Linked DNA regions of Homo sapiens: regions 2 and 3 are each linked to region 1. The links come from fine-mapping of genetic effects on gene expression. A gene starts in region 1. Each other region holds a variant in brackets. All regions are shown on one strand. Distances are from middle to middle. Region 1 holds the start of ERICH6-AS1 (ERICH6 antisense RNA 1). Region 2 overlaps CLRN1-AS1 (CLRN1 antisense RNA 1). Region 3 overlaps ERICH6 (glutamate rich 6).

Region 1 (8,185 bases):
GGAGAAAATATTTGCAAATCATACATCTGACAAGGGGTTCATATTCAGAATATATGAGGAACTCAGAATACTCAAAAGCTAAATAATAATAATGATAATAATCTGCCAGAGTATGGTGGCTCACAGCTGTATTGCCAGAACTTTGGGAGGCCAAGGTGGGAGACTCACTTGAGGCCAGGAGTTCAAGACCAGCCTGTGCAAAATAGCAAGACTCTGTCTCTACAGAAAACTAAAAATTAGCCAGGCATGATAGTGCACACCTGTAGTCTTAGCTACTGGGGAGGCTGAGGTGGAAGAATCGCTTGAACCTAGGAGTTTGAGGCTGCAGTGAGCCATGATTGCACCACTGCACTCTAGCCTAGACAATAGAGCAAGAATCTGTCTCAAACAAAGAAAAAGTCGTGTATAGATACAATGGAATACTATTCAGCCATAAAAAGGAATGAAATCCTGTCATATACAACAATGTGGATGAACCTGGAGGATATTATGTAATGTGAAATAAGCCAGGCTATAGAAAGACAAATACCTCATGATCTTGATCATATGTGGAATCCAAAGAAGTTCACCTCATAGAAGTATTGAGTAGAACAGTGGTTACCAGAGGCTGCGGAGGGGAGGATGGAGAGAAAATAAAGAGAAATTGGTCAACGAGTACAAAGTTACAGTTAGATAGGAGGAATAAAGTCTGGTATTCTACTGCACACTAGGCTGACTATGGTTAACAATATTACATATTTCAAAATAGCTAGAAGAGATAATTTTGAATGTTCTCATCACAAAGAAATGATTATATAGTTTGGCTGTGTCCCCACCCAAATCTCATCTTGAATTGTAGTTCCCATAATCCCGTGTCGTGGGAGAAACCCATAGAAGGTAATTGAATCGTGGGGGCAATTACCCCCATGCTGCTGTTCTTATGATAGTGAGTGAGTTCTTACGAGATCCGATGGTTTTATAAGGGGCTTTCCCCACTTTTGCTCGGCACTTCTCCTTCCTGCCATCATGTGAAGAAGAATGTGTTTGCTTTCCCTTCTGCCATGATTGTAAGTCTCCTGAGGCCTAATTAAAGCTTTTTCCTTTATAAGTTACCCAGCCTCAAGTATGTCTTTATTAGCAGTGTGAGAAGGAACTAATACAAACGATAAATGTAAGAGATGATGGATATGCTAAATATCCTGATTTGATTTTCACACAATGTATCACATATTGAAACATCACACTGTATCCCATGAATATGTACAATTATGATGTGCCAATTAAAAACAAAATTAAAGAAAGGCAAACAAAATATCAAATGATGACAATAGGGAACAATTACATAACATTATATACTTGAGATAGGAAATTTTTTAAAAATCCATTACCTCTTGATATGGTTTGGCTCTGTTTCCTGACCCAAATCTCATCTTGAATTGTAATCCCCACATGTTGAGGGCAGGACCTGGTGGGAGGTGATCAGATCATGGGGGTGGTTTCCCTCATGCGGTTCTCGTGATAGTGAGGGAGTTCTCAATGAGATCTGATGGTTTAAAAGTGGCAGTTTCTGGCTGGGCATGGTGGCTCACACCTGTAATCCCAGCACTTTGGGAGGCCAAGGCGGGTGGATTACCTGAGGGCAGAAGATCGAGACCATCCTGACTAACACGTGAAACCTCGTCTCTACTAAAAATACAAAAAATTAGCCAGGCGTAGTGGCGGGCGCCTGTAGTCCCAGCTACTCGGGATGCTGAGGCAGGAGAATGACGTGAACCCGGGAGGCCAAGCTTGCAGTGAGCCAAGATTGCGCCACTGCACTCCAGCCTGGGCAACAGAGTGAGACTCTGTCTCCAAAAAAAAAAAAGAAAAAGTGGCAGTTTCCCCTGCACTCTCTCTCTCCTGCCAACAAGTAAGATGTGCCTTGCTTCCCCTTCACCTTCAGCCATGATTGTAAGTTTCCTGCGGCCTCCCCAGTTATATGGAACTGAGTCAATTAAACCTGTTTATTTTATATATTACTCAGCCTCAGGCAATTCCTTATAGCAGTGTGAAATCGAACTAATATACCTTTGAAGCACTCAATACATTAGAAACATTTTCTAAACAGAGTTATGTGGTCCTAAAATAATAATAATAAAATACAAAATCAGTCCTCAGAAAATAGGCCAGACAGGATGACTCACACCTATAATCCCAGCACTTTGGGAGGCCAAGGTAGGAGGATTGAGTCCAGGAGTTCAAGACCAGCCTGGGTAACACATTGAGATGCCATCTTAGGAAAAAAAAAAAAGAAGAAGAAAATAAACAATAATTAAATTTTATCTCAAAATAGCCCCATAAATTAAGTGGAAAGGTACTGATATTTCCATTTAACACACCAAGAAACTGAGGCTCAGTAACCCCAAAGTCACAGTTAGTCAGGGCTGGTGCCTGGTTCTCAAATCTCAAGTTCCTGAGTCAAGCTAGACACCAGGAATGGAGAAGGGGAAAATATAAACTGACCCAGCATCATATTATCTCTGAACGGCCAAAACAAGAGTGGCATCAACTCATGAGAAAATAAGGGACTGTTCTTTCCGTAGTAAGTAGATCCAAGGGAAGGAGATTCCATAAAATGTTCAAAAAAGGTCTTAAATAGAGGGTCTAAACAAGGAGTACTTAAACAAATTAATTCACCACACAATTGAGAAAATGCCAGGGCAGTCACAGAACTGAGCTACAGCAGGCACAAGCGGAGTAAGCACAAGCACTGTCACCCTTGCTGTCTGCCAGCCCCGTGTCTCATCCCCACATCCTGACTTCCAGTCTGCTCTCTGAGGACCCTGGTTGAATTTCCTAACTTCTAAGATAGCTTCCAGCATCAAACTGTTAGTATTGTCCAGAAAAGAAATGAGCTTTTTCTTATTTTCTCTTTTTAAATTACACTTACCTTATTTGTACCTCAATATCTGTACACATAGTTCCCTGTCCTGACCCTCCTTTCCTGCCGTGAGCCTGCTGGAAAGCTTTTCACTTTCCTCTCTGGTCACCACATTTTGCCCTTCCTTTTAAAGCAACTCAGATGTCTCCTCTCATCTGTGCTGCCTGCTCCTTTAGCCTGCAAGAACTCTACTTTCAAAAATATTCCCTAGCCAGGCACAGTAGCTCACGTCTGTAATCCTAAGAACTTTGGGAGGCCCAGATGGGAGGATCTCTTGAGCCCAGGAGCTTGAGACCGAGAGTTTGAGACCAGCCTGGGCAACATAGCAAGACGCCATCTCTACAAAAAGTAGTCCCAGATACTCGGGAGGCTGAGGCGGGAGGATCAGCTTGAGCCGGGAGGAGGAGGTTGCGGTGAGCTGAGATAGCACCACTGCACTCCAGCCTGAGCGACAGGGTAAGACCCTGTCTCAAAATAAATATAATACAGGCCAGGCACTGTGGCTCACGCCTGTAATCCCAGCACTTTGGGAGGCTGAGGCAGGCAGATCACGAGGTCAGGAGATCGAGACCATCCTGGCTAACACGGTGAAACCCCATCTCTACTGAAAATGCAAAAAATTAGCCAGGCGTGGTGGCACGTGCCTGTAGTCCCAGCTACTCGGGAGGCTGAGGCAGGAGAATTGCTTGAACCCAGGAGGCTGAGGTTGCAGGGAGCCGATATGGTGCCACTGCACTCCAGCCTGGGTGACAGAGCGAGACTCCGTCTCAAAATAAATATAATATAATATAATATAATATAATATAATATAATATAATATAATATAATATATAAAATTGGCCAGGCGTGGTGACACACATTTGTTGTCCTTGCCACTTGGGAGACCGAGGTGGGAGGATCACTGGAGCCCAAGAGTTCAGGGCTGAAGTGAACCATGATGCCGCCACTGCACTCCAGCCTGGGTGACAGAGTGACATCCTGTCTCTCAAAAATAAAAAATGTATATATTTTACAAAAATGTAAGTAAATACAAAGTCCCAGAAGGACGCAGGTGGTACCTAGGTGGCCAGATGCTTCAGGACTTTTCTACTCCAGGATGGATAGATGGGCCAAGTAAGAAGCAGGACCCAGATCACAGCAAGGAGCAAAATTTATGGGACGCTAAAAATGTCGCCAATCAAGATTAATTAATATTAATCTAACAATATTTAAGATAACTAACATTTAAGGCAATTTTAATACGCTTATTAATATTTAAAGCTATTTTAAAAATATCCGCAAACGAGGGCCCAAGGGCTGGCGCCTGATTTTGTAAATAAAGTTTCACTGGACGTTCCAGCAAGCATCTGTCTACTCAATAACCAGACTCCAGCATCCGCAATACCAAATGGCACCGTGTGTGTCCGTCGCTAGAAGCCACTTCCTCCACCCAAGTTAAAAAAAAAAAAAAAGGCCCCAAATAAGCTGAGAGACGAAGAAAAGATCGTTTCTCCGCAGGCTGCCAGGGGTTTCAGAGACGCTGAAGAGCAGGGACAGAAAGAAGTCTGCGGTGGCCCCCACCGGCCCTCGGCACCCACATTCTATCCGGCTAACCAGCTCCTGCCGCTTTAAATCCGGGAGGCTCGGTGGCGCAGGGCAAGCAGTTGCCCGGGGAGACCAACGCACAACAGAGGCTCGCGCTCGCGAGAGCCGACCGGGGCCGCGGCCAAAGAGCTGGCTGTAATCCCGCCTCCCGCCAGCCATGGCCCACTTGCGCTCGCCTAGCGGCTTCGGAGACCCGGGGAAGAAGGACCAGAAGGAGTCAGAGGAGGAGTTAGAGGAGGAGGAGGAGGAGGAAGAGGTGGAGGAGGAGGAGGAAGAGGTGGAGGAGGAGGAGGAAGAGGTGGAGGAGGAGGAGGAGGAGGTGGTGGAGGAGGAGTTGGTGGGGGAAGAGCAGGAGTTGGAGGCCCCTGAGACGTTCAGCGAAGAGTACCTCTGGAAGGTCACGGACATCGGTGACTACGACGACGACTTCCCAGACGTGCGCCCCCGCTTAGCCAGCATCGTCAGCCCTAGCCTGACCTCTACGTTCGTGCCCAGCCAGAGCGCGACCAGCACTGAAACGCCGAGCGCAAGCCCACCCTCCAGCACCTCCTCGCATAAAAGTACCGCCCCCGACCCACCCCTTCCTCGAGGGTTTCTCGTCTCCAGGGGGCACCTGGTCCACCCACTCCTGGGTGGTGCCTTCGTCGACCTGCGCGTCGTGCCTGATTTCTAAATGCATGCACCATTCCACACACCTAATCTCTCTCACGCCCTTGTCAGAGACACTGAACCCTTGGCTGAGCTGTTGTGATGAGGCACGATTTAGGATATAGGCGAAACACCATAAAAGTTGAACTTGGGCATGGCTGTATGAAGTGCTTTTTTTTTTTTAGACAAGAGTCTCGCTCTGTCGCCCAGGCTGGAGTGCAGTGGCTGCAGCCTCGACCTCCTGGGCTCAAGCCTCCCACCGCAGCCTCTCGAGTAACTGGAACTACAGGCACACGCCACCACACCCAGCTAATCTGGCGTCTCACTATGTTGCCCAGGCTGCTGGGAGTGCTCATTTTTATAACATTTTTGCGTGCATTCACACCGTGACATCTCTCTCTCTCTCTCTCTCTGTTCCCCCTCCCCTCCCTCTTCCTCCCCTCCCTCTCCCCTCCCCCTCTCTTTCTCTCTCCCTCTCTCTCTCTCTCACAGACACACACACACACACACACACACACTCATATTATTTCCAGAGAAGTGCCTTAAGGGTGCTGTACTACTGAAACAGTCCTGCAAAAAAAAAAAACAACTCTCTTTTGTGTTTAACATCCTGTGCTGAAGCCACTCCAGTCACTTCCTTGAAAAAAGAAGCAGAGAAGTCTTCTAGAGTAGGCTTCTCAAGCTCTAGTGTTGACATTTTGGTCTGGATAATTCTTTGTTGGGGAGGATTGGGGACTGTCCTGTGAATTACAGGATATTTGGCAGCATCCCTGTCCTCTACCCGTGGCTGTGCTAGAAGCACACATCCTTGCGATGATCAAAAATGTCTCCAGGCCGGGCGCGGTGGCTCACGCCTGTGATCCCAGCACTTTGGGAGGCCTAGGCGGGCAGATCACGAGGTCGGGAGATCGAGACCATTCTGGCTAACATGGTGAAACCCCGTCTCTACTAAAAATACAAAAAATTAGCCGGGCGTGGCGGCGTGCGCCTGTAGTCCCAGCTACTTGGGAGGCTGAGGCAGGAGAATAGCGTGAACCCGGGAGGTGGAGCTTGCAGTGAGCCAAGATCGCGCCATTGCACTCCAGCCTAGGCGACAGAGCGAGACTCCGTCTCAAAAAAAAAAAAAAAAAAAAAAAAGTCTCCAGACATTGCCATGTGTTCCTGGGGGGGGTAGAATTGACCTTTTGATTTAGAGGGAATAGCTGATTTTTAAATGTTTCATTCAACAGGTTTCCCTAAAATATTTCAGACATTTAGGAAAGACATGTCTGAAATGAGTATAGATAGGTAAGAAAATGTTTTCAAATTTCACATTTTTTGAACCCAATAATGTTTACCTTTTGGATAAACATGTTAGGAAGTAGAGTAAAATAATCCAGGGCATTTGTGACTTACTTATTTTAAAAAGTTTTTTTTAAATATACACTGGTAGACACTTTGAAAGAGATAAAGGTTCCCACTTATCCCCAGCTTATTACCTAGCTCTAGAGATTACATGTCCACTTATCAATGTAACATGAAAGAATAACTATATATGCCATGTGTGCAATTGTAAGTGCTTGAGAATTTTGAATATAGCTTTTATTGGCTAAATGCAAGAGTGACCAGGGACGCCTTTTGTGGAAGAGAGTGGAAATAATAGCTTTTCCTTTTTCCTCTCTCTCTCTTCTTTTTCTTGTTATTGCTATTAGCCTTCAGGCACTTTAACTATAGTAAGAAGATACCAGTGAAATGCCTTCTGGAACATCTTTGTAAATATTCCCTGAAATCTCACACCAAACCTGAGTCAATGATCTTGAATTATTAGTTACCCTAACTTTGCTTTTGTAAGCAACTTTTGAATTCTTAAGTCTAAGGAGAATTGTTCTGTCTCACTTACATGTTTTTAGTTATCCTTTTAATTCAATTTGTAATAAAGATAATGTATACATGTGGTTAAAAAAATCAAACTACACAAAGGTATAAAAATGAAAATCTCATGCCCTTCTTCACCCCCACTCCCACTCACCTTCAGTTTTGTTTCCATTATTTAAAATGACATTTTCATTTCTTGGTTTATCAATTTCTGACATGTGTATTGAATTCCCACCTCTCCACTTTGGTAGTTATATTATTTTTAGTTTTTCTAACATTTAGGACTTCGAGGTATTTAAACCTCTACTTCTTGATTCATCAATTTTAGTATCTATTGACTATAATGAAAAATTAACATGTTAATGCACTTCCTCCTTCCATCTTTCTTCTCTCCTCTTTTTTCCCAATTAACAACAAACTATATGAAATGATAAATTATATTAAAATGCAGTGTATATTTACATAAAGTTATATTACTTTTCCAAGCTTTATTATGCTTGTATTATGGTTTGTTAATTATAATTAAAGTGCTCTGGGGTTGTTTCTAAAAATTGAAAACCAACAAACAATACTAACACTTCTATGTTGACAAACCAGTAATATGATTGAATCTATGGACAAGAAAATATAATCCTATGTCTATAAAACTTGTCTCTTAAAAAGTAAAGTTTTTGCCAGATGCAGTGGCTCACACCTGTAATCCCAGCACTTTGGGAGGCTGAGGTGGGCAGATCACGAGGTCAGGAGTTCAAGACCAGCCTGGCCAACATAGTGAAGCCCTGTCTCTACTAAAAATACAAAAATTAGCCGGGCATGGTGGCGTGTGCCTGTATTCCCAGCTACTTGGGAGGCTGAGGCAGGAGAATCGCTTGAACCCAGGAGGTGGAGGTTGCAGTGAGCCGAGATCATACCACTGCACTCCAGCTTGGGCAATAGAGTGAGACTTCATCTCAAAAAATAAATAAAAAATAATAATAATAAAATAAACTTTTTGACTCTCTGTTGTTCTGTCTACAGTTTTTCTGGGTTGGCTCACCAGCCACACTTTATTGGTTCCCATATTGTCTTCTTTCTTTTGTTGCTTTTCCTTTTGCTGGAGAAACTCCTCAGGTGAATTTTTTATATAGGTCTCACGGATAGTCAAATTTCTGAGTTCTTGCCTGCTTTGAAATTTCTTCATTTTGCCCTTGTACTTGACTT
Region 2 (8,185 bases), 290 kb before region 1:
GCCATGAATTGTGACAACACATGTGAAAATACTATCTACCACGGAGGCTCATTAACGATTCAGCACCCAAGGTTTTGCTGGTAGCTGGTCACACTGGCACCCTCTGCCCAACACATACTGAATTTCAGACTCCCAGAAGGAAAGCAGGTGTTTGACAGAAACCATACTGTTTGCATAGACAGTTTAGTTACAGTGAACCATTCTTATCGCTTATGGAAAGTTTTGTGTCAGTCTAGGGAACTGTTTACTATTCAAGTTTCCAGATACCAGCCAAGGGTCAACATTGCAAGCAGCCGGTCTAAGCATTGCAGCCTCAGGCCTGCTATTGTTCATTCTTTTCTGCATACCAACATTAATAAGATATTGATTGATTACAACAAATTTACCCTGCATTACTGCCTCAGAGCTCTTATCACTAATTAAAATTATAAGGTATTATATGTATTTAATTACCTACTTGTTTATTTTCTGTCTCTCCTACTAGAATGTAAGCTCATGAGGGCAAGGACTTTGTCGTATTCACAGCTGTATCTTTAGCACTTCAAACAAGGCCTCCTCCATTATGGGCACTCAACAAATACTGATTGAAGGGATGAAAGAACAGATTAACAGTTCAGCCTAGGATAGAGTCAGATGCGAGATATTTTTTGGAATACTCGGCAAATACAAGTCCTTCATGGGTGGCCATGACTATCAGATCAAACAAGGCCTGAGCCATGCTCTTCACAGGCAGTATTGTTACAGAGATTCCTGGTCTGGTGCACTTCTAAAGTCAGAGTCTCTGGAGATCTCACCTGCAGCTGTATGAAGAAGAAAACATAAGAATGTTCTCTATCTGCACATTCCTTTCCCTTTCTCTTATTAAAAATAAACATTGTGCTGGTGAGTTTTTCCTGTGTTCCTCCCCACTCTCAGAAACAGTTCTAATGTCCAGATTAAGTATTTCCTAAGGGGAGAAAAAAACTGTATTCCTTTTGAAGAATGACCATCTGTGTAGCCTTGGAGAAACCCTAGAGGACTCATGAATGGAAAAGGATCTCCGGGCCAAAAATCAGTTCTCACTTAATGTCTTCTCTGGCTATTGCTCTGGCAGTTGAATGGAGTCAGATTTTCATCTTATGTAATATGACAGGACAATTCAACTTCCATTGAGTGTAGCACATATCCCTAGAGCTACATAGGACAGAACTAAGTGGTTACATAAACACATATGGAAACGTAAAAATTTTAAAGACAGGCTAAGCACTCCAAGGGACATGTTACCCCCAGGGGAAATTAACAGTTAGATCAACAAGCAGAGCTCTCCTCTAAGTCACACATGGATTTCATACAGTTTATGGCCATACTACTGGAGGGGAAAATGACTTTATGTACATATTTTTCATGACTTACTCTGAGAAGGAGAAAATAGGCAATACCTTTTATCTCAGGATATCAGGAGACAGAAAAGGGATGACCATGGGGCATACTAGTTGGGGTCAGAACAAACAATGTATTAATCAGGGATTCTGCAGGAAACAGCATACTCAAAACAACTTATTGAAAGGGATTTAATTAAGCCACTAGTTACAAAGGTATGGACAGGTTAAGGGAACAAACAAAGGATGGTGAGGCCTCCAGGGACTGAGGAAGCCTGTTCTACTTTTAGGCCTGAAGAGAGCAAAGGGTGGAGGTTGTGTTATCAAAACCAGCACAATCTATAGTCCTTGGAGAGAATCCACCCAATAGGAGCTACAGCTATGTGCAGACAGAGCCCGAACCATGAGGAAATTGGAGGGAGAGCATATGGAGATGGGGGGAACGAATATAAATAGCCCAAACTCTCTTTCTTCCCACCTACCAGTTTCTTGCTGATGCTTCTCACTGGCCACAGGAAAGCACCAGGGGCAAGGAAGTCTGTGTAAGAAAGAGCACAGGGGTCAGCTTCCTGAGGCACAGCAGGTTACAGAAGGGCCAAGAATGGGCAGACAAGGAGGAGAGGGCATGTGGACAAAAATCAACACAAATAACGCCTACTAGCCCTACTACTACTCGACTGCAGACAAGGGTTGACATTTGTTGGATGTGCTAGGCACAGTCCTATGCCGTTTACATGAATCATCCCACTTAATACTTGTGATGCGATTTACTGTGAAATCAACTAAGCTGAAGCTTCAGGCCCCTCTATTGCACAGATACCTTTCAGGGACCTCAGAGGGACCCTAGCCATAAATTTACATAGTGCTTATGGAAATTTTGCAAATGTAAGATACGTTTACCTTAATTAATTAAGGTTACTGTTTCTTTCCAATCAGACTTCACTGCTGTTACGTTTCCCTTCCCGTCAGGTGGCACTGAGTGTGGGAATTTTTTGGATATGGCTAATGGGATGTTGAGGTGGGATTACACTAAAGTTGGGTTTAGTAAGAGATTTTTAGGTGGTTTTCAATCACGCCAGTGTAGAAACGGCGTCCAGGAATACTCCTTTTATCTACTATGCTGATTCATCATGGAACCAAGCTTCACGGCCAGGGGTTGGGGTACGAAAGTGAGATACAGCACGTAATTCTGGACATACGGCTATGGAGGAGACACGAGATTTGAAAAACTCGAGCCGGAAGCTAGCCTCTGTGGAATTCTTCTAATCATAGCATGTGTAAAATTGTAAGGGGAGGGTGGAATTCTCATTGATAACTAGACAATATGGAAGTTTTTTTCTTGGCAATAATATACTGTAAAATTCAGTGCATACAATTGTAACAGCATTGTACTTTTTTCTCCTTTTTGATGAGAATTGTGTGAAGTAGAAGAGTAGAATTTCTGTGCCTGGAGGGCATATACCAATACCAGCACCACTTATATGCAAATCATCACAAATTCTACATTTTATCATGTATTTTGCAGGCCACCAAAGTAAAATTGAGAAAAAGATATATGTAAGTATATTCTAAAGTAATGTAATAATAGCAAATATTTACTAGCATGTACTATATCTGGCATTGTGCTAAGCATTTTATAGGTATTAACTCATTTAATCTTCACAGCAACCCTTTGAAGTAGGTGCTATTGTTATCCTCCTCCTGTCTTTTCTTTTCTTTTTTTTTGTTTTTTGTTTAGTTTAGTTTTGTTTTTTTTGAGACTGAGTCTCGCTCTATTGCCCAGGACGGAGTGAAGTGGCACGATATTGGCTCACTGCAATCTCCGCCCCCCAGGTTCAAGCAATTCTCCTGCTGCAGCTTCCCAAGTAGTTGGGATTACAGGTGTCCGCCACCACGCCCAGCTAATTTTTGTATTTTTAGTAGAGACGGGGTTTCACCATGTTGGCCAGGCTGGTCTCGAACTCCTGACCTCAAATGATCCACTCACCTTGGCCTCCCAAAGTGCTGGGATTACAGGCGTTAGCTGCCGCACCCGGCCCTGTCTTTTACTTTCAAAAGCCTAAACTCATTGTTGGGATCAGAATTTGAGGTGAGAGAGGAGTCCTTCTGGGGAAGTATGATCAAAGAAGACTTTTCTCAAGATGAAGTCCCAGGGACTGGAACAGACCTCAGTGGCTGGGCCCAAGGGTGGCGCCATGGCATGCCAAGGATGACCAAGGATAAAACATAGTGTGGAAATAGCTGACTTCAGACTTCAAGGAAACACTTGGGCTGAGACAGTGGGGCATTTCAGCAATTAGTAGACAATTTAGCAGGGTGGGGGCCTGAAATTATCATTAAATTGATTTATGAAAATGAAAGAAATTAATTTTGTTTGCAGAGTTTGAGGAATAAGACTTATATTTGCTATTTAAGTTTAACTCTGTGAAAATAGAAACAAAGGAATTATACACCTTGGCTTCATCTCCTTCAAAATCTGAAATACCTAATAAAAAGAATATTGGTTTGGGGACCATAAATAACTGGCTTTGAATTCCAGCTCTGCTATTTATTAGCTAAGTGACCTTGAAAAATGTGTAAAATTTCTGTGAGCCTCAGTTTCATCAGCTGTAAAAATGGGAATAATAGTGTTATTGTAGGAATTATCTTAGTGCATTTAAAACTCCTGACCTGCTACTTCATAACAGGCATTTAAATATTGGTTTTCATTATAAATGAAAATAAAATCTAAACGCATTTTCTGGAAGAAAGTGTTGCAGAAGCACAAATTACATACTACCCTTTCAATGCCACCTAGCTAATATGCTTTATGAAGAAACCCAGCTGTAATTTAAAAAAAATTTTGAACTCACCCAACGTTTTTGCCCTGCTTCTAAAACTAGAAACCAAGGAGGTAACGTGTACCCATCTGTGCACCCACACCCTTTTGAATATGAAGTTTAAATAAAAGTCTTCTCAGTCTGTTTAAACAGTACTCCTCGGCTTTGAGGCAGATAGATCTGCTTCAATTAGAACCTAATCCTGCTCTCCTCATACTTGCAATGCTCTCACTAAAACTCGTGAGAGAGAAACAATAGTCCATTTAATTAAATGATGCTGAAGCCTGAATTCAATCCATCTGTGTATTGAGAAGTAAGATTTTGAATATTGATTATTCTTCCC[T/C]GCATGAAAACTTTGCTATCTGCTCTGCATTCTCTCCCCAATAAGGAATGATGTTTTCCCTACTATAGCGGCTTTTATTTTAAAACAAACTAAATAGGCCTAGTTCTAGAACAAAAAACAATGTTATTGTTTCTCTTTTTCCCTTCAGCTCTCCATTTCGGGCTTCTGGAACTTTTCTCTCTGTCCTTACCCCACCCATCTAGTCTCAGGTGGCCACTTTCCTTCGGCTGCCCTCTGTGGCTTTCCATTCCTTGGCAGCACCCTGGGCTACTAGTGTCTCTCTCTTTCCTCTCTGCCAGCCATCTTTTTTCTCCTAACTATCCCTTAGGGAGGGTCTCGCTGTGTCTGGGACCTCACCCTGAGCAACACTAGGGATCTCCTCTTTTTTGCCTGCCCAGAAATTACACAAAAGGTGTGTATGGAAATCTGAGCGAACTGATGTCCTGCTTCTAACCTATTTGGGTTGATTTGGTGACCCATATAGAATCTGAACCCCAATCCAGCTCTCAGTGAAGGTGTTCAGTAAACGGACTCCATTCTACTCTGTGCAAAAGGGTAAGGGCCTACCCCTTGCCGTAGTCAGCTAAGGAAGAAGAGTTGGTCAATAAATTCAATTCATGATTAAGTGATTAAGTCACTTGCAACCCTGACTTTACCATAAAATAATTCAGAAAGCTTTTAATAATATTGAAGCCCTAGCCCCACTCCATCTGATTTAATCGATCTGATGTTGGACTCAGGATGTGTATTTTTTTGTGTGGTAAAAAAATACCACACAGAAAACTTACCATCTTCACCATTTTTAATTGCACAGTTCAGTAGTGCAATTTGGTTTAGTTGTACAGTTCACATGGTTGTGAAACAAATTTCCAGAACTTTTTCATCTTGCAAACCTGAAACTCTATACCCATTAAACCACAATTCCTCATTTCCCCCTCCTTTCAGCCCGTGGTAAGCACCATTCTACTTTCTGTTTCTATGAATTTGACTACTTTAGATATTCGTATAAGTGGAATTGTATAGTATTTGTCTCTTTTGTCACTGGCTTATTTCACTTAGCATAATATCCTCAAGGTTCGTCCATGCTGTAGCATGTGACAGAATTTCCTTCCTTTTAAAAGCTGAGTGATATTCCATTGTATGTATATACCACATTTTGTCTATCCATTTATCTGTCAGTGGACACTTAGGTTGCTTCCATCTCTTGGCTACAGTGAATAGTGGTGCCGCTGTGAACTTGGTATGCACCCTTGTTGGACATCTTTTGCCTAGATATGCAAGGGTTAATTTCTGAGCTCTCTATTCTATTCCATTAGTCTACATGTCTGTTTTTATGCCAATTTCACATTGTTTTGAGTACTGTAACTTTGTGATATGTTTTGAAATAACATATTACAAAGTGTCTGTCCTTTAGAGTGTGATTCCTCTAATTTTGTTTATTTTCAAAATGTGGGGCCTCTGGAGATGCCATATGAATTTTCAGATGAATTTTTCTGTTTCTGCAAAAAATGCTGTGGGAATTTTGATAGGAATTGCATTGAATTTGTAGATAGCTTTGAGTAATATGGACATCTTAACAATATTAAGTCCTCCAGTCTATGAACATGAGATGTCTTTTCATTTATTTGTGTCTTCTTTAATTTTTTCAGCAATGATTTGTTTTTAGTATACAAGTCTTTCATGTCTTTGGTTAGGTTTATTTCTGAGAATTTTTATTCTTTTTGATTCCATTATAAATAGAATTGTTTTCTTAATTTTCTTTTCAGATTATACATTGTTGTTGTACAGAAATGCAGTCAATTTTTGCATGTTGATTTTGTATCCTGCAACTTAGCTGAATTCATTTATTAGTTCTAACAGACTTTTTTGTGTGTGAATGGAATTTTTAGGGTTTTTATATATGAAATCATATCATCTGTGAACAGTTAATTTTACTTCTTTCTTTCCTATTTGGATGACCTTTCTATCTTTTTCTTGTCCAATTGCTCTGGCTTGGACTTCAGTACTATGTTAAATAGAAGGAGTAAGAGCAGCTGTGCTTGCCTTGATCCTGATCCTGATCTTAGAGGAATGAGAATTTTAAAAATTTTCTTATTTCTGATCTTAGAGGAATGAGAATTTTTAAAAAGCTTTTCAAGTGATTCTAATTTGAATCCAGGCTTGAGAATTACTGGGTTAGGTATTCATTTCCCTCATCCCAGAAAAACTGGAGCAGAGAAAATCAGGAAGGCACCTTAGGCCCCAAAGTGAAAGCTATGAAGGTAGGCTTCAATAGAATGCTTTTACTAGACCTGGTCATCGTCTCAAACCACTGGACCTAGAGCATACAAGAAAGTTTCTGATACTGGTGACAAAGTGTTCATTGATTCTCGACAGGGCTGGAGAGGATAAACTTGAGCATCAGGGGTTAACTGTTTTGATAGCCGCAGTTGGTGAGGGGATGGAAACATCAAGGGTGGGTTTTCAGAATCAAAAAGACACAAATACTGGAAGAGGTAGTGGACCAAAAAAAAAAAAAATACTCCCCAGCATTCATTCTACTTCTGATAACCAGCTCTGGTTCCTGTTTGTAGAGCTAATCTTTCCCCATCTGCTGCCCAAGTAGCTCTGATGGAATTGCCTCCAGCCTCTGTATTGAGGGTGGCATGAGACTGAGGAATGGCTCATCAGAGCTTGTGCTTCCCTTGGCCACAGTAATTTCTTCATAGATAGGCACATGGCTCCTTCAGAGCCACTGGGACACAAGGGAGCTTTTTCTTCAGATATCTGAAGCAAAGGCAGACTCTCTTTCTCTGTGCCTCGAACCTGAGGGGATGAAGAGTCTGAAGCTACTGTCACCATCAAGCCATGAAGTTTGAAGTAGAAATGAACACAGTGAAAGGCTGAGAAAAGGTGGAGTAATACTGAACCTGGATGACTTCTTTTGAACCCTGACACCAGCACTACCCCTGATCTTTTCAGTTATATAAGCGCGAACAATTCCCTTCATGCCTAAGTCAGTTTAGGTTGGCGTTTCTGTTACTTGCAACCAAAAATCCTAGCTGACTGAGAAAATATGACAGATATAAAAAGAAAATAAGAGTAAATGGTCAGACAGCCAGAACCCAGGCCAGCAGTCCTGGGCATGAGCTTTCAGCAACCAGAGCATGGCCCCTTGATATTGCAGCAATGTTGCCCTTGAACAGAACCTAATCCCTGGCTGAGGTCAGCCAGCAACTGAAAAAGTTGGCCCACTCTGCTGACCTTGCAAGAATTGCTGCAGTCCCCACACCCTTCACACCTGACAGTCTTGCAGATTACTCTTCCTTCCTTTTCCACCACCCCTCAGGCTCTTAGCACCAATTCTTTTCCTCCCATCAACACTGCTTTGAGGAAAAAAGCTAGTTAATTCATTCACTCTAAGGTTTATATGACTCATATGTTCCTATTTGTTAAAATATCTACATTTCCAAAGGGCGCAAACTATCCTTTAAATTGCCTTCGTTCATTGCACCGTCTTTGAAGTCTAATTCATTGCAAACAAATGAATTTGTCGATGCCTGTATAGCTCTATATGACACAATGATACAGTACTTTATTAATCATTACAGAATACAGGAAGCCTCAGAGTTTACTTTCCTCCTATGCAGAAAAGTGCCCTAAAAAACATCAAGGAAACATCATCA
Region 3 (8,185 bases), 24 kb after region 1:
AATAAGATGGTGCACCACCACACTGCCGCTAGAGTGGTGAGGGACTGACTGGTGGAATGCTTGTTTCCAAACCTGGGCTGGATGCCATGGCCATGTGGAGAGAACTGCTTACTCCCCAGATCTGAGAACCCTTGATGACTTCTTCTTGGGCATAGTAAAGGTGGAGGTTTATTCATTAACAATAAGGGGCACGAATCATGCAAGGCAACATGTCATGGATGCACATGTAGAGATGAATGGAAATGCCGTATGGATGCACTGAGGTGGTGTTCATTGCTATTTTGTACAGCACTTTGAGCTATGCAATCTAGTGAGGGGAAACATTAAGTATATCATGTAATATAATATCTATAAACATTTACTCTTTATATTTACCCAGGTTTCTAAACTTTACGGTCACTCAACAGACTCTTCGGGCTGAAATTCTTTTGTTTTTTTATTTATTTATTGAAAAGATGTGGTCTCACTATATTGCCCAGGGTGGGCTGAACTCCTGGGCTCAAGCAATATCCCTACCCTGGCCTCCCAAAGTTCTGGGATTACAGGCATGAGCCATCACTTCCAGCCCTGAAATTCTTTATTTAAATGTAGCACCTTCCTTTTTCTGCACCACAAAGGCTTGTATCTAGGGATGTCTCTGAGGTTATACTCGCCTCCCGCAACACCCAGAGATGGGTCTTACCATGGGGAAGGCCTTGCGGCTTCTCCCCCAAGACGTCCCTGAACTGGCACTTGGACGAGGCTGGCTCCTCCTGCTCCTCAGCAGGTCTTTCAGGTCTAGTGATGATGCCAATCTAGTTCAGGGGTAGCAGTGGCTGGCTTGCCCAGCTCTTCTCTCTAGCCACACCCTCTTCAGGTGAAGATCCAAACTCCCCTCATGGTCTTTGTGTTTTTGTTTTTGTTTTGTTTTGAGATGGAGTCTCACTCTGTCACCCAAGCTGGAGTGCTGGAGTGCAGTGGCATGATCTTAGCTCACTGCAACCTCTGCCTCCCGGGTTCAAGCAATCCTCTTACCTTAGCCTCCCTAGTAGCTGGGACTACAGGCACACACCACCGTGCCTGGCTAATTTTTGAATTTTTAGCAGAGACAGGGTTTACCAGGCTGGTCTCCAATTCCTGACCTCAGGTGATCGGCCTGCCTCGGCCTCCCAAAGTGCGGGATTACAGGTGTGAGCCACCATGCCCGGCCTCCCTCATGGTCTTTTGAAGTATCTCCATCTTGCTTCACCCCTAGCTGAGGGTGAAAGGACAACGGGCTGAGAAGTTCACAACCAAGTCCCTTGTATGGAGCAGGTTGTGAATGGCTTGGTATTGCCCAGCTCTCTTTCTGTCCTACTCCATCATTTGATAGCTATCCTAGATTTTCCTCCATCATCTCTCTAGTGCGAGACTTCACTCTCCAAGCATTCTGCTTTTAGCAATGTGCAGTACTTACTATTGGGTAGTTTCAGTGGCCTAAATATGTTGGACATTACTCTGGGGTAGTGAATCCCTGGCTGCACTGGCCACCTTAGTCACTTTTTAGCCCTATGTCAGGCATTTTTGCCAGTCTCAGAGAATGGTTACCATGGCATATACAGATGCCCTGGTGTTGTTAATGATCTGCAAGTCATGATCTGGGTCTCTTCCTGGAGGCCTGTCCTGAGGCTTGGCTGCTCACCTGCTCAGGAGCCTGTGCAATCACAGACATGACCTCAGGTCATTGACATGGCCACTCCACATTGAGTCAGCTGAGCCCCTAACTCCCAATCTCTCCCTTGTTTTGTGTCCCCTCCTCCTCCCTGTCCTGAATTACCTTCACAATACAGACAAAATTCAGAGCTCCAACCTAGGCTCCCCAGAGAAAGGATTCTCATTTATTTTAGAAAGTTGGTCATTGTACATGTTGGCCTACACAGTAATGTCAAGGCTTTTTCTTACTTGGCATTTCTTGAAAGAGTTAATGATGTTCAAATACTTAGATCATTTGTATAAAATCCAGTGTGTGTTATCCTTATCTCTTGCATCTAGGTACACACTACACATTCCCCTCCCCAACAAGGGACTCTGGTATCCACAGTGAATTCATTTCTGCAACTTTCTTCTTATACCAGGAAGGCATTCTGAAGACCACACACTTCCTGATAGGCTCAACTCTGCTCTGGGGAATTGCACCAGACAGAGACCTGCAAAACACCACCTCAGGCTCCTGAAGCCTCACCAGCCCTTAAATGGAAGTGATATCACTTACTGGCACATCTCATCACCACTGCTGTTCCATTCACTGACCATGCCCAGGGTCGTGCTCCTGCTGCTCTCAGAGCCTCTGGGCCTCTTTGTGGGGACTTCTTTAATTTTTTTCCTCTCTCTCTGAAGGATGAAGAGGAGGAGACATCACCCAAATGTGAATTTTGTGGCAGCGATCTAAGAGCATTTTTTTCTAATGTGGATGTTTCCTCTGAACCAAAAGGGCATGTAAGTTCTAAGTCAGGTTTACTGTGGAAATAGTATTATCTTTAAACATATGTAGTATTTTCTCTTGCATCTTTCCCCTGCATTGCCATTTTTAAAAGAGTTAGGCCGGGCTTGATGGCTCACACCTGTAATCCTAGCACTTCGGGAGGCCGAGGTGGGTGGATTGCCTGAGCTCAGGAGTTCGAGACCAGCCTGGGCAACACGGTGAAACCCTGTGTCTACTAAAATACAAAAAATTAGCCGGGCATGGCGGTGTGCACCTGTAGTCCCAGCTACTTGGGAGGCTGTGGCAGGAGAATTGCTTGAACCCGGGAGACGGAGGTCGCAGTGAGCCAAGATCGTGCCACTGCACTCCAGCCTGGGCAACAGAGTGAGACTCTGTCTCCAAAAAAAAAAAAAAAAAAAAAAAAGAGTTATGTGTTAGCTGTCAGGGAAACGCAAATCACAAGCACAGTGGGATACCACTTCACACCCATTAGGATGGGTATAATTTAAAAGACAGATAATAACAAGTGTTGATAAAGATGTAGAGAAATTAGAACCCACATGTACTGCTGAGGTGGAATATAAAATGGTGCATCACTTTGGAAAACACTCTAGTAGTTCCTTGAAAGGTTCAACATACAGTAACCATATGACCCATCAGTTCTATTCCTAGGTTTATACCCAAGAAAATGGCAACATATGTCCACACAAAAACTTGTACAAAAATGTTGACAGCAGCATGATTCGTAATAGCCAAAATATAGAAACAACCCGACTGTCCATCAATGGATGAATGGATGAATAAAATGTGGTATATCCATACCACGAACTATTATTCAGCCATAAAAAGAAATGTGAAGTACTGAAACATGTCACCATATGGACAAATCCTGAAAACATTATGCTAAGTGAAAGAGGCCAGACATAAAGAGTGCCACATGTTGTATGGTTCCACTTTATAAACTGTACGGAACAGGCAAATTTAGAGAGACAGAATGTAAATTAGTGGTTGCCAGGGGCTGTGAAGAAGAAAGGAGAGGAAGTGACTGTTAGTGA[G/C]GACAGGTTTCAGATTCTAAAATTGATTGTGATGATGACTGTACAACTCTGTGAATATACTAAAACAAATGAATTGTACTTTTTAAATGGGTGAATTGTATGGTATGTGAATTATATCTTAATAAAGCTATTACCAGAATAAAAACTTATGATGGATTGTTATCCAAACCTTGTTAGTCATTTTTATCCCCTCTAATCCTCCTCATCTAGGACTAATGAGATGAGAGTAACTTCTGTGTTTTCCAGGCCTCCTGTTGTATTGCTTTCCAAAATCTGATTGACTATATCTATGAGGAGCAAATAAAAACCAAACCCCCTAAAGCTGAATTAATTGCTATTGACCCTCATGCAGCCCATGGTAGTGAGGTCGACAGACTCAAGGCAAAAGAAAAAGCCCTGCAAAGGTAACATTGAGACTTCGATACTGAAACTCATACAGGCCGGCTTAATCGGAGCTCGTTTTGTAAATGAACCTCATTTTTTCAAGATATATAACTTTGAAGATGTATTTCCTAGATTCACAAGTAATAACAGATCAAACAGACAAGGATGGCATTTAAGCAGCTGAATTTTGTAGTAGACTGTTTTAAGCTTCAACCACATTTCAGATTTATGCCTGATGTTTTCTGATTTTGTAGGAAACAGGAGCAACGAATGGCCAGACATTTTGCAATAATATCAAGGGAACAGACTCATTTCTCTGAAGATGGTGAGTTCATTAGTGCTGATCTTATAGACCAGCTGTACAACGTCAGAAAGCTCAGATGTTTAACCAAAAGATGAAATGGGTGTATTTAAAAAATAGTATTGGCCAGGTGCAGTGGCTCACGCCTGTAATCCCAACACTTTGGGAAGCCAAGGTGGGAGAATCGCTTGAGCCCAGAAGTTTGAGACCAGTCTGGGTAACATAGTGAGATCCTGTCTCTATGAAAAATAATAATAAGTAGTAGTATTGAAAAATTTTTATTTCTAAGTTCAGTATAGCCTACATCTGTCAAAATGGCCCAGAAAAGCTAGTGTTTCCAGCCATCTGGTTTTTGGAGTTTTCAGTCTTCATCTCATTGTTATTATTCATTGAAATAAATTAGCAACACCTACAGAGCACTTTACAGATAACTGCAAAGAGCTTTCAAGTTCATTGTCTCATATTTTATTAAGCATACTTTCCATTTTGTTTTCAAGCTTGGATATGGAAAATCTGTCAAAAATAAGTCAACTTGGCTGGGCGCGGTGGCTCACGCCTGTGATCCCAGCACTTTGGGAGGCTGAGGCGGGTGGATCGCCTGAGGTCAGGAGTTCGAGATCAGCCTGGCCAACATAGTGAAACCCCATCTCTACTAAAAATACAAAAATTAGCTGGGCATGGTGGCAGGCGCCTGTAATCTCAGCTACTCGGGAGGCTGAGGCAGGAGAATCACCTGAACCTGGGAGACAGAGGTAGCAGTAAGCCAGGATCGTGCCATTGACTCCAGCCTGGGCAACAAAAGAAAAACTGTCTCAAAAAAAAAAAGTCAGCTTATTTTCTTCATATATTAGTTGTCGTATAAGTTGGCTCACCAGTATCACTGTAGTACTGGTACAGTTGAAGAAACACTGAGTTTAGAATCAGAAGTCCTGGATTTATATCCTTGCTTTTCTCCTTACAGGCTGTCTGATTCGGGGTAAATGACTTAATCTTTCTGGGCATAAGCCTCCTCCTCTACCACCCAGAGCTACTGAAAAGATACTTAGATGGGAGCTAAGCTATGAGGACGCAAAAGCATAAGAATGATACAATGGACTTTAGGGATTCAGGGGGAAAGGGTGGGAGGGTAGTGAGGGATAAAAGACTTCACATCACTGCTCAGGTAGTAAGTGCACCTAAATCTCAGAAATTGCCACTAGAGAACTTATTCATGTAACCAAACACCACCTGTTCCCCAAAAACCTATTGAAATAATAAAATAAAAATAAATAAAAATAAAAGTTGAACTGCCAAAAAAAAAGATACTTAGAGAAGATATATTTTTATTTATTTTTGTAACTAAATCCCTAATACAAAGTTTCCTGATATCCAACTGTTAGAGTATCAGTTCTGCTAGAACTAAGGCCAGAAAGTTTCACTTAATGAAAATTGTCTTTTTTTTTTTTTTTTTTTTTTTGAGACAGAGTCTTGCTCTGTCACCCAGGCTGTAATGCAGTGGCACAATCTTGGCTCACTGCAACCTCTGCCTCCCGGTTCAATTTTCCTGCCTTAGCCTCACAAGCAGCTGGGATTACAGGCACACGCCACCACGCCCAGTTAATGTTTGTATTTTTGGCAGAGATGGGGCTTCACCATGTTGGTCAGGCTGGTCTCAAACTCCTGACCTCAAGTAATCCACCCGCCTCGACCTCCCAAAGTTCTGGGATTACAGGTGTGAGCCACTGTGCCCAGTCTCATTTTTCTTCTTTTAACAAAGGAATGTTCTCATTTTTTGACAAGGGGGAATAATAAAATTTTTAAAGATGATGAAAAATTTGAATATAAAAATGTCTTATGAATCAGTGCATTTATATTGGGGTTTGAAATTTCATTTTAGAAAAGAGGCTTTAGAAAATTTAAAACATATATGTATTTCTATGTGATTCTTTTCCCACTAGATTCAAAGCGCTTAAAAACAATTTCTTATCAACTTTCTGTGGATATTCCAGAAAAACAGATAATTGATGACATTGTATTTGATTTTCAACTAAGAAACAGTAACATGTCTATCATTTGTTGTGATTCTCGGATAGCATGTGGAAAGGTAATGAACTTGTAATTTTTTTACTTGCTATTTTAAAAAAAACCAGTTTTACCTAAAATTATAAAGTCTTTCATGAAGCTTGGCTACATGATGCATTTAACTAGTTGTCAAAAAGAATTGGTACAGACTTGGTCTTTTAACTTCTGCTAGACTTTATAACAATGTCATATGTTTGGGTTAAAGGCTGTTTACTTTAAAATGTAAGAGTTGCATATTAGAGAACATTTGGAACCCTTAGAAAATTAAAAGGAAGGGAAGAAAATTACCAAAAGTCCCAATCACTTCTCCCAAAACATTAATATTTCAATATTTTCTAGACTTGCACTGCCCAATATGGTAGCAATACTACATTTGGCTATTTAGACTTAAATTAAATTAAGAGTGTAATTTCTCAGTCACGCTAGCCATTCCACAAGTCCTAGACAGCTACATGTAACTAATGGCTACTGTACTGCAGTGATGATATAGAACATTTTTCTTGTAATCAAAAGTTATATTAGCACTGTTCTAGATGGTTTTCCTTGCATGGGTTTTTGTTAACATACTTATAATTGTATCATATATATAATTTTTATCTCTTTTTTAACTTAATTATAAAAACAAATTTTCCAAGACCAGGTACAGTGGCTCACACCTTTAATCCCAGCACTTTGGGAAGCCAAAGCAGGCGGATTGCTGGAATCCAGGAATTCAAGACCAGCCTGGACAACAAGACAAAACCCCATCTCTACAAAATAAAGAAAAATTAGCCATGCATGTTGACATGCACCTGTAGTCCCAGCCACTTGGGGGGGCTGAGGCAGGAGGATCCCTTGAGCCTGGGGGTGGAGGTTGCAGTGAACCGAGATTGTGCCACTGCACTCCAGCCTGGGTGACAGAGCAAAACTCTGTCTCAAAAAAAAAAAATTTTTTTTTCATGATATTATATAGTTTACATTAATATTATTTTCATAGCTATATAATTTATCATGTAGTTTAACCCATTTTTCTGTTCTCGGACATACTGATTCTTAACAATTTTTTTGCTATACTAAATACCATTTCCTTAAATATCCGTGTATGTAAGTACATTTCTATGTAAGTATAGTCCCTCAGAATAGACCTCTCGTAATTAAATTACTGAGACCTGGTTTGTTTAACTTGGGAGATATAGAATTTAAGGGGTGAACCAGGCAAACTGGCTTGCACCTGTAATCCCAGCTACTCAGGAGGCTAAGGTGGGAGGATCATTTGAGGCCAGGAGTTTGAAACCAGCCTGAGCAACATAGCAAAATCCCATCTCTAAAAAAATGTTTTTGGCTGGGTGTGTTGGCTCACGCCTGTAATCCTAGCACTTTGGGAGGCCAAGATGGGTGGAATGTGTGAGCTCAGGAGTTCGAGACCAGCCTGGGCAACATGGTGAAATCCCATCTCTACTAAAATACAAAAATTAGCCAGGTAAGGTGGCAGGCACCCGTAATCCCAGCTACTTGGGAGGCTGAGGCAGAGAATTGCTTGAACCTGGGAGACAGAGGTTGCAGTGAGCCAAGATCGCGCCATTGCACTCCAGCCTGGGCAACAGAGCAGGACTCTGTCTCAAAAAAAAAAAAATTTTTTTTTAATTAATTAGCTGGGCATGGCAGCACATGCCTGTAGGCTCACTTACTTGGGAGGTTGAGGCAGGAGAATCACCTGAGCTGAGGGGTTTGAGATAGCAGTGAGCTATGATCATGCACTCCAGCCTGGGTGACAGATCAAGACCCCCATCTCAAAACAAACAAACAAACCAAAAGAATGTAAGGGCTGTCAGTAAACCCAGGTGACTGGCAGAAGTAAATCCAAACTATCTTTGGAGGACGGTCACTAATTCCACCTTCAAATCACACCTACAAATTATTTTTCAAGTTCAGTTACCAGCACACAGTGAAAAATAACCAAGAACA

Evidence for each region. PIP is the estimated chance that this variant, and not a neighbour inherited with it, causes the effect.
Region 2: its variant is fine-mapped to the expression of ERICH6-AS1 in caudate (GTEx, PIP 0.97).
Region 3: its variant is fine-mapped to the expression of ERICH6-AS1 in lymphoblastoid cells (GTEx, PIP above 0.99).

The regions. Positions count from the first base shown.
Region 1 is chr3:150,700,354-150,708,538 of GRCh38, reverse strand. It overlaps ERICH6-AS1 (ERICH6 antisense RNA 1), which reads right to left and starts at 4,975. Exons shown (of 3, transcript NR_121675.1): 1 at 4,872-4,975; 2 at 530-607. ERICH6 (glutamate rich 6) reads left to right here and starts at 4,619. Exons shown (of 14, transcript NM_152394.5): 1 at 4,619-5,043; 2 at 6,361-6,418. The coding sequence starts at 4,641. RefSeq lists enhancers at 4,424-4,513, 4,664-4,743.
Region 2 is chr3:150,995,285-151,003,469 of GRCh38, reverse strand. The region is part of intron 1 of CLRN1-AS1 (CLRN1 antisense RNA 1); the gene reads right to left. Among named protein-coding and RNA genes, the nearest start is that of CLRN1, 27 kb to the right of the region's middle. The variant T/C (reference allele first, on the strand shown) is at 4,521.
Region 3 is chr3:150,676,487-150,684,671 of GRCh38, reverse strand. ERICH6 (glutamate rich 6) reads left to right here. Exons shown (of 14, transcript NM_152394.5): 7 at 2,356-2,454; 8 at 3,742-3,899; 9 at 4,134-4,204; 10 at 6,118-6,263. Among named protein-coding and RNA genes, the nearest start is that of ERICH6-AS1, 23 kb to the left of the region's middle. The variant G/C (reference allele first, on the strand shown) is at 3,496.